Regions from separate parts of the Homo sapiens genome. Here region 1 is linked to region 2. The links come from fine-mapping of genetic effects on gene expression. A gene starts in region 2. The other region holds a variant in brackets. All regions are shown on one strand. Distances are between the middles of the regions.

Region 1 (5,519 bases), 360 kb before region 2:
GGTGAGGTTAGATTGGGCCCCACTCCTCCAGGTGTTCTTGTGCAGGGCAGAAATGCCAGGTGCACAACATGCATCCAGGGACTGATGAGCTAGCGTTTCTTTGTTTTCTCTTTTATTTATTTCTTTCGAATTGCTTTTTCTTTTTTTTTTGAAACAGAGTTTCACTCTGTCGCCCAGGTTGGAGTGCGGTGGTGCGATCTCGGCTTAGTGCAACCTCTGCCTCCCGGGTTCAAGCAGTTCTTCTGCTTCAGCCTCCTGTAGCTGGGATTACAGGCACCCACCACCACACCCAGCTAATTTTTTTATTTTTAGTAGAGATGGGGTTTTGCCATGTTGGCCTGGCTGGTCTTGAACTCCTGACCTCAAGCAATCCACCTGCCTTGGCCTCCCAAATTGTTGGGATTACAGGAGTGAGCCACCATGCCCAGCCTCTTTCATTAATTTCTGTTCTTATCTTTATTATCTCCTTTCTACTTTCTTTGATTTATTCTGTGCTTTTTAAAAATTTTCTTAGGTGAAACTCAACTCATTAATGGGTTTTTTTTTTCTAACATAGCATTTAAGATCTTAAATTCCCATCAAGCATGACTTTACTTGCATCACACAGCTTTTGATATTGGCATTTTCATTATTTAGTTCTAAGTGTACTTTTATTCCAATTATGATTTCTTGATCCATAAATTATTAGAACTGTGCTTTGGCCAGGCGCAGTGGATCATGCCCGTCATCTCAGCACTTTGGGAGGCCGAGGCAGGCAGATCACAGGAGTTTGAGGCCAGCTTGGCCAACATGGCGAAACTCTGTCTCTACTAAAAATACAAAAATTAGCCAGGCGTGGTGATGGGCACCTGTCATCCCAGCTACTTGGGAGGCTGAGGCAGGAGAATCGCTTGAACCCAGGAGGTGGAGGTTGCAATGAGCCGAGATCGTGCCACTGCGCTCCAGCCTGGGCAACAAGAGCGAAACTCTGTCTCAAATGAACAAAAAACCAAAAACCAGAAAAAAAACCCAAAACTGTGTTTTAAAAATTTCAACCACATTAGAGCTGTTTATGCTCTTCTATTACTGATGTCTAACTTAATTGTATTCTTCTTAGAGATGGAGTTCGGTTTGATAGTGATTCTCTGAAATTTGTAAAAATTTCGGCCTGGGCAATTGCAGCACACTCTGTGTGTGTGCTTGAGAAGAGTGAGCATTCTGTAAGGCTGGGACCAGGACTTTATGCACATCCACCAACTCCCGCCTCCCCCAATGTTGCAATAGCTTCCTGTTTTTGCCTCATTCACCTATAGTGCAATCTCTATGTAGATTCCATTTCTTTGGTGCATTGCAGAGTTTGTCTGGATTCATTTTTCTTTCTCTTGAGTGAATTATTTATAAATTTAGAGATTCTTTAGAAATTGTTGAAGTCAAAGATGCAATTTTGCAAACCAGTTTGACTGTGGGCAGCCCCAGGGCATCATTAGCTGTAGCCTGAGAACAAACACAGGTGCAAACAAAACCAGGGCGTTTCAGCTGGTAAATGCTGCCATGAGGCAGAACTTGCTTTTCCCCAGGCTGGAAATTGGAGAACAGTTTGTCCTGGACCAAGTGATGAAAGGCAGGGCGACATGGGGGAAGAATTGGAACTCCCAGTCCTATGGCTCAGCTGTAAATTCTGCAGAGTAGAGCAGAGAAGGGATTGTTTTGTTCCCTCTTGGGAGAGGACGTGATGCTGAGGGCCCAGTGTGAGAGGCTTTGGGCACAGAGCGACCTTTAATGATTCCCAGAGGCAGCACAGCCCCTGGACACCTGGGCGGCCTCCAGGGAAGGATTAGAGCTGCCTGCACATGTGTAGTCCTAGTGAGACGGCAGGAGGCGGGACTCTGGAGACAGGGCTCAGACATCAGACCAGTCTGAGGACTAGCTAAACAGGGGAAGAGGTAAAAGCACCTCTACAGAATCCATGCCCACTGACAACACCCGGACATTACTGCCACTTTCCATGACAACAGCCTTATGACCCAGAAGTTACCACCCTATTTCTAGAAATTTCTGTATAATCTCCCCCCTTAATTTTCACATAATTAAAAGTGGGTATAGGCCGGGCATGGTGGCTCATACTTGTAATTCCAGCACTTTGGGAGGCCGAGGCGGGCGGATCACCTGAGGTCAGGAGTTTGAGACCAGCCTGGCCAGCATGGCGAAAACCCATCTCTACTAAAAATAACAAAAATTAGCTGGGTGTGGTGACACGTGCCTGTAATTCCAGCTACTGGGGAGGCTGAGGCAGGAGAATAGCTTGAACTCAGGAGGTGGAGGTTGCACTGAGCTGAGATTGTGCCACTGCATTCCAGCCTGGGTGACAGAGTGAAAGTCTGCCC[G/A]GAAAAAAAAAAGCAGGTATAAATATGACTGTGGAACTGCCTCTGAGTTGCTACTCTGGGCACATTGGCTATGGGCAGCCCTGCTCTGCCAATGAGTGATACCTCTGCTGCTGCTGTACTCTGCCGCTTCAATAAAAGTTGCTAACACCACCGGCTTGCCCTGAAATTCTTTTCTGGGTAAAGCCAAGAACCCTCCTGGGCTCAGCCCCAATTTTGGGACTCACCTGTCCCTACTAGGGGCACCTGTTCAACATTGCTGGTCCTGGGAGCAGATGCAGAGGCTGAGCTGTGCCACCGCCTGAGATGGGGAGAAGCCTGGTGCTATGGACCGAATGTTTGTGTCCCCTGCAAGTTCTTATGTTGAGATCCTAACCACTAATGAGATGGTATTTGGAGATGAGGCCTTTGGGTGGTGATTAGGGTTAGATTTGGTCATGAGGGTGGGGTACCTATCACAGGATTAGTGCCTTGTAAGAAAAGATGCAAGAGGTCTTACTCTCTACTTTCTGCCATGTGAGGCTACGACAAGAAGACTGTTACTGGCCAGGTCCAGGTCCGTTCTGCCCATGTGCAGTAAATCAATCACTATGACATGGGTTCTGCAAAAGAAAAGATACTTATTCTCAAGGGCACCAGGTGAAGATGTGGGAAAACAGCTCTCAAATCCACTTCTCTGAAAATAAGGCTTAGGGATATTTATGGGTTAGAGAAGTGGGGTGGTTTAAGTCTTGGGGAAAGGTGATTGGCAGTGGGGAAAAATAAAGTAACAGATTCATTTTGCACAAGTGTAGTCAGGGTTCATGACATTTCATAGGACCTATGTACAGAAAATGGTGGTGTTAGCATGATCTGAGGGTGGAGTATTTGGCCCTCTGATGTCCAAAGGCCACCTCTCAGGCACTTGCGCAGGCCCAGTTGAAGAGTTGGTGGTCTCAGCTGGTTTGAACATGACAGGAGCTGGCCCAAGTTCCTGAAAAATAACTGAAGTAACCATTACCATGGTGACCTATAAATGCTATCTATAAAGTAGCCAGTAAAGGTCAGGTGCAGTGGCTCATGCCTGTAACCCCAGCACTTTGGGGGACCAAGGTGGGAGGTTTGCTTGAGCTCAGAAGTTTGAGGCTTCAGTGAGCTATGAACATACCACTGCACTCCAGCCTAGGCAACAGAGTGAGATCCTGTTTCTTAAAAAGTAAAATAAAAAATACAGTAGTCAGTAAAGGTTTAAGTTTTAGAATTCAGTGATGCATACTTCAGCTACTGTGGCCTTCAGCTTCATGGAAAAAGGAAGAAAAAATAACAAAAAGCAAGTGACCCAAAGCAAGCAGGGTAAGCAGATCTCATCAAATTAACCACTCAGTTTAAAGATGGCCATTTGCAAACCAGGAAGACAGTCCTCACCAGCCTCCAGATCTGGTAGCATCTTACCCTTGGACTTTCTGGGCTCAAGAACTATGAGAAATAAATGTTTGTTGTCTAAGCCATCCAGTCTGGCGTAATTTGTTATATCAGCCTGAAGAGCCTAATAGCTGGTGTCCGTCCCTAGGGAAGTCATAAGCAGACTGGCTTCCTCTCCTTTGCCCTTTGCTTGCTGTGGGCCTGAAGTGTCTAAACTGCCATGCTTCCTCCACTTTCTGTTTGCTGCTTCTCCAGAGACTTGAATAGCTTGACAAAACCAAAGCCTGAAGTTATAAATGGATGGGAAGAATGGGAATGTACACATGGTCCAAAGATTTTATCTTGCTATGGGAGAAAGAGGAAGGAGAGTGGGCAACAAAGCCATCTTTGTGGTGGTGAAGGATGATGATTATTTTATTTTGTTATTCCAGAAAGGAAATAGAGGCTTATTTGTAATTATTATGCCTAAAACAATCCAGAACAAAACTACTAAAAAAATTGAAAAGACTAGTAGAACTTTCAAAGTAATGAGGAGAAAAAAGAGAATAAAATAGGACTCTGGAAAATTGAAAAGAAAAGGGAAAATGAGGAGAGAAAACAATGAAGTAAAATGCACTATAAATAGAAAAGGGAACAAATATTTAATAAAATCCAATCATGGCTGGGCACGGTGGCTCACGCCTGTAATCCTAGCACTTTGGGAGGCCGAGGCGGGCAGATCACGAGGTCAGGAGATCGAGACCATCCTGGCTAACATGGTGAAACCCCATCTCTACTAAAAATACCAAAAATTAGCCGGGTGTTGTGGCAGGTGCCTCTAGTCCCAGCTACTTGGGAGACTGAGGCAGGAGAATGGCATGAACCCTGGAGGTGGAGCTTGCCATGAGCCGAGATGGTGCCACTGCACTCCAGCCTGGACAACAGAGCGAGACTCCGTCTCAAAAAAAAAAAAAAAAAAAAAACACGAAAAAAACAAACAAAAAGAACCTAAAATCAAGGTATGTGCTATATATAAGAAACACACCTATAATGAAGTGACAAGGAATGTATAAAAATTAAGGAATAAAGCACAATTTAAGGTTAAAATACGAAACAAGAGGAGCATTGTGTAATGATAAATATGACTTACAAAGAAGTTATATATTTCAGTTATCTAGTGCTGTGTTCATGACACCCTAAATTTTTTTCTTGAGACAGGTCTAAGTCTGTTGCCCAGGCTGGAGTGGAATGCCATGATCATGGCTCACTGCAGCCTTGAACTCCCAGGCTCAAGTGATCCTCCCACCTCAGCATCCTGAGCATCTGGGACTACAGGTGTGCACCACCATGTCTGCCTAATTTTTTTTTTTTTTTTTAAGAGACAAGGTCCCACCATGTTGCCCAGGCTAGTCTTGAACTCCCGGGCTCAAGTGATCCTCCCACATTAGCCTCCCAAAGTGTTGGGATTACACGTGTGAGCCACCACACCTGGCCCAAATCTTATGGTACTTAGCACCATAACAATCATTTGTCACAATTCTGTGGGTTAGGAGTTCGGGCAGGCCTCAGCTGGTTGGTTCTTCTGCTTCATGTATAGTTTATCACCTAGAGTCACTCACTCTGCTGGGTTGAGCTGCTACCTGGAATGGCTGAAAAACCCAAAAAGGTCTCACTCACATGTCTGGGGTCTTAGCTGGGGTGTTGGAATGGTCAGAGGCATTCTCTTTCATTACCTTAGTGAGAAGGATTCATATGCTTCCTTTGGATGTAAGGAAAGCT
Region 2 (5,000 bases):
AGGACACAGGAGGGAGAGGCTGAGTGAGCAGCGAGGCGGGTCCCTGAGGGCCCGAAAGAATGCCGGCTCCTGGCTCGGGAGGCGGACCTGACCCGATAGCCCAGAGGGAAGTGGCAGCTGAAGAACCAGCAGGGCTGCGTGCAGCCAGGCCCGGATCGGGACCAGGGAGGAGCCTGGGGGTCGTCCAGGGAGAGGCGAGGGTCCTGAACCAGGGCAGGCATCCGAGTGAGGCTCAGGAGCCAGGAGAGACCCAACTGGGAGTGAGGAATGAAGGGCACAGGGGGTGGTCTGGTTTGTGGCTGGGGCTGGCTGGCTGTGGTGGTACCACTTCCGGAAGTAGGGAAGTGGGAGGGGAGGGGAGCCGTGTAGGCATAAAGCTCCCGACCTATTATGATTCTTATTGCCACCGTCAAGGATGGGTGTTTCGGGTCTGTCTGGCAGTGCAGACATCTCTGGGGGTTGAGACTGAGCTGAGGTCCCCTCTGTGACCAGCCCCAGAAGCCTGTCCAGCACTGGTCCGGGATGGGCAGGGGAGGCCTAAGTCAGAGACGCCCTCCATGCTCTTCCATCCTGGGAAAGAAGGTGAGATGGGGTCTCCCAGCCAACTTTTCCTGTGTCTGCGAAGGGAGGACAAACCAGCAGGTAGGGAAAAGAGGCTGAAATGTGGAGAAGCCTCCCTCCAAATCCCTGGTTGGATACAACGGAGACCCCATGGGAATCACAGACCCTTGGACACAGAAGTAAACAGGTGGCGACAGTGACAAAGGTGGCCTCTGGGCTTCCCGTGGGCTCCCTCTCCTGCTGCAGAGAACAGGCAGCCAGCACATGGGGTACCCAGGGCACAGCTCCTTGAGTGATGGATGCTGGCATAAGAGAAAGCCCTTTACAAACTGCAAAGCCCTGGGCCAAATGCCAGGGGTCACTGTCCAAGGTGAGGAGAGACGGGGCTGCTTCTGGAGAGATAGGGCAGAGGCCTCACACCAGGCTCTGCCCCATCAGCTTCGTGGTCCTGGGCTGGCACCAAACCCTGCTGAGCCTCAGCTTCCTGGGGTGTCAAACGGGGACTATAACTTCTCCGCCTAAGGCTACTGAGAGGGTTAAATCTGGGTGGTGGGGGGTTGCACAAATGCGACTTCCTTGGAATTCATAACATCATCTGCTAAGTGGGTGAGAGGCCAGGGCGCCATCACATCCAAAAGGGCTGGGTAGGATTCTCCAGAAAGTTTTCGTTGATCAAACAAAAAGCTAATGATCCAGAGGGTGGAGTTCATACGAGGCAGGGTCCAGGTGCTGCCACTGAAACCCCTCAACTCTCTACTGAGGGGCCCCGAGAGAGAGAGGAACTGCCACAGCGCTCCTAAGTGGGCTGTGGGGATTCAGAATGACCCCTAAGCTGCCCCTCGGGCGGGCCGGGTCCCCCTGGGGGACTGAACCCCCCTTCCCCCCCACAACACCTCCCGGGGGCCCAGGCGCGTTCCAACGGCCGGGCGGGCACCGAGGGCGGCCGTGGGTCCCGGGACCGCGGGGGAGGGGCATGACGGGGCAACTCGGGGGGGATGGCGCGGGGCGCGGGGAGGGGGCCTGCCCGCCGGCCGCTCCGCCTCTCGGGCCTGCTGTCCCGCCCGCGGCGGGGCTCCAGGCGACAGCGCGCGGGGGACCGGGGCGCGCCCCCCGGGTGACCCGTTCGGGCCCGGAACAGGGGTCGCCTTGCGCGTTGCAGAGCGGGCGGGACCCCCGGCCCTCCAACTTCGGGGACCTTGTCGGGACTTTGGGGCCAGCCACCCATCAGCTCGGAAGGGGAAACTGAGGCCCGAAGAGGACAGTGCCTCAGGGCTCTTGCCCGCCTCCTGCGCGCTGCCCACAGCCACCGCGCCACTGCCCCAGCGCCGAAGTACTCACCGGCCCGTGAGTGGGCCGCACGCGGCGCTGCGACGCCCTGGGGCCTCTGGGCCGGCAGAAAAGTTGTTCGGGAGCAGCTGAACGCGGCGCAAACGGGAGATCTGCGGCCGCGGGGGAGCAATCTGCACTCGCTGCTGAAGAGCCGGCTAGCGCGGCCTTCTGCACGAGGGGGCGGGGCAGGGGCGGGGCCTTCGGCCTCCCTCCACTCCAGACGCGGCCCCCCGGATGCGGCGCCAGCTCGGCCTGCTGAGTGGCCGGTGTAGCCGCCAATCACTCCACATCTCCGCCAATCACGGTGCGCCTCGCCTAGCTGCGGCCCGGCACTCCCCCTGCGTGGTTGGGCCCGAGGGGCCAGAAGGCGGGTCCGGCTCGCCCACAGCGAAAGTTTCCGAGCGGACTCGGGCCCCGGCCCCGCCCCCGCCCCGCCCGCGGAACGTCCAGTTGCTTAGCGAGGCCGCTCGCCTTCTCCTGTAACAGGTGGTTTGGACCCGTGGAAAAGGCTCCGGCCACCTTTCATCCACCACTCCGGCCTCAGCGTCCCCAACTGCAGATTCATTATATTTGCTGTTGCAATATTAACACACGTCTTGAGCGCCTATTCCGGCGCTGCAAGAGAGTCTAAGGGCTCCCCTAATAACAGCAGCAGAGATGGAAAAATGGGGCCTGTTTGAAACGAGTGTCTGCAGCCAAGTACTGCTTTCAGTGCCCAGAATCAAATGCAGTGTAGCAAGCTTTTCACACGGTGACTGTGGGATTCCTTTAAAGTGTGTGTTAGCCCAGGGAGTGGGCAAGGCTCAGGCAGTTTGGAGACTCTGGGAGTTTGGTTCCTGTCTGGGAGGCGTGGTTTGGAGATGAGGGCGAGGGTCTATCCTTGAGAGGCCCTGGGGAACGTGAGACCCTGCCTGCTCTGTCTCTGGTCCCCACAACCAACCTGAGCTACCTGTCCTAGTTATCACAGCAGAAACTGGGGCTCGGAGTGACTGTCAGAGATAATGCTTACCAACATGTTGGGAGCAAATATTCCAGATGGCTTTGGAGATGAGTTCTGAACACACTACTTCGGAGGACTTTTGTCAAAGCGGCGTAGTTCATGTCAGTCACCTCATTTGATTCTCCAGCTGCCCCCACTGCCCACCCCCGATCCCCAATGTTCACGTGTGACCCTGTGAGGCTCACAGAGGAAGGAAGAACACCTGCCGTCAGCCTCGCCTGCTCTGTCCAGGTTGGCTTAGGGGCTTTCACAGCTTTCAAGGGCCCCCCTAGTGACCCAAGGAGGGAGGTGGCACTGAGCCCATTTTTTATTGATGTGAAAATTGAGGCTCAGACATAGTTATTTGCCCAAAGTCTTGAAGATGTCTTTCCACCTTATCACACACTAACTGTAGAAAATTTGGAGAATTACTAAAAGTAGAAAGGAGAAAAAAAATCACTCAAAGATGATCACTGTTCACATTGTGAGATTTATGCACATTTAAGAAAATAATAAATATTAATGTGAACACACAATCACAGAGAGGCTGAAGCACTTCCCAAACCCTTTGCAGGGGCTCATTAAGCAGAGAGAAGAGGACAGATTGAAAAGTTCCTCCTGTGGAGGTCTAAGGGAAGAGAGGAAGTGCAACAAAAAATCTACAAGATGGCTTAAGGAGCCTCTATCAGAACACAGCAACACTGAACATACTCCACGGAGCTAAGAGACTGAAAAAGCAACAGGCAAATTCAGAAAGAGAAGAGTGGAGGTGAGGACAAATGAGCAAACTGGAAGATAATGTGGAGTAAATGCTTCATGATGTAGAGGAAAAGCACATGAAAATCATCAGGACAAAAAGCAGAGACTGGAAAGACAGTTCCAGGAGGTGTATTGCACAAAGGACAGGTACTCCAGGAAGAGCTGGAGGGGAAACAGAGGTGAGCAAAGTGCCAGGAGAACGTGTCCCTGGAAATCCCAGATGCCAAGGATAAAGAGACGGTCTTGCAGAGTTCCAGAAAGAACAGGTCACATCTAAGGGGAGAAAAGTTGAAGTGGTTCCTAGGGGACTTTGGAGCAATGTCCAGGGACTCTGATGATAGGATCAAGGATCCTTACCATGGCTACTACAGGATTCATCTATGTGGACAAAAGAGAGAAAATATCCACTGTGGCAAGACAGAGAAAGGACCTCAGTGATGTCCCCTTTCAGAGGAAGATATTCAGAGTTCCCCCGTCACCGAGACAGTTCAATCACAGTAGAGATTTCAAGATAGAGCAAACGCTCAGAACAGGAAGTGGTGTTAAGCAATGACCCTTGCAAAATATACAGTATGGATAATCCACATGTGCCTGTGATTTTGTACTAGCAGTGCCACATAAGGATTCTTAAAACATAAGCTACATGCTTCAAGAGAAAGTTGTATTAGCCTGGAACTAAAAAAAAAAATAGAATCTTATCACAGAGAAGTCAGAATATTTTAAGATCACATTTGGTTGAGGGGAGAAGGAGGAAGTAAAAGGATCTGATTTGGTGAGTGGGGAAGGAAAGCCTTATTGGTGGTTGGGAGGGGTGCTTCATTACCATTTACTTTTAATACATTAGCAGGGAAAGATTGGTTTAATTATGACTCTCAGCTGGGGAAGGAAAGCCTTATTGGTGGTGGGGAGGGGGCTTCATTACCATTTACTTTTAATACATTATCAGGGAAAGATTGGTTGAATTATGACTCTCAGGAATTGGAAAGTAGCAACTCACGGGAAAGAAGCAGAGTAGAACTCCTGAATTACTAGGTAGAAGTTGGGGGAGGGGTGGAGGGAGAGTAAGGAAGCAAAATTAAGGGGGAAAGTAAATAATAGCAAGAACAATAAGCTTAATAATAGTAAACATAAGATGAGATAAAATAAATAAAGCCATGGCTACCCGCCTTCGTAACACGGTGAATGGGCTGAATTTCCCATCCAAAGTCTGTAAGATTGGGGCAAAAACTAAAGTCCAGTTAAGCGCTATTTACAAGAAACACACCAAAAATATTGAGAAGTAGAAGATCACAGCAGACATTTGAAAAATGGCAAATTACTATTGATAAGGAAGAACGCATGATGGAAAGCATTCACGGGAAGAGTGGTATTA

What was found. PIP is the estimated chance that this variant, and not a neighbour inherited with it, causes the effect.
Region 1: its variant is the best candidate, but not a certain one, in a credible set for the expression of WFS1 in testis (GTEx, PIP 0.82).

What each region holds. Positions count from the first base shown.
Region 1 is chr4:6,629,481-6,634,999 of GRCh38, reverse strand. LOC124900653 (a long non-coding RNA gene) reads left to right here. Exons shown (of 2, transcript XR_007058007.1): 2 at 1-3,847. Among named protein-coding and RNA genes, the nearest start is that of MRFAP1, 8.4 kb to the left of the region's middle. The variant G/A (reference allele first, on the strand shown) is at 2,364.
Region 2 is chr4:6,266,914-6,271,913 of GRCh38, reverse strand. It overlaps WFS1 (wolframin ER transmembrane glycoprotein), which reads right to left and starts at 2,064. Exons shown (of 8, transcript NM_006005.3): 1 at 1,900-2,064. RefSeq lists a silencer at 1,977-2,086.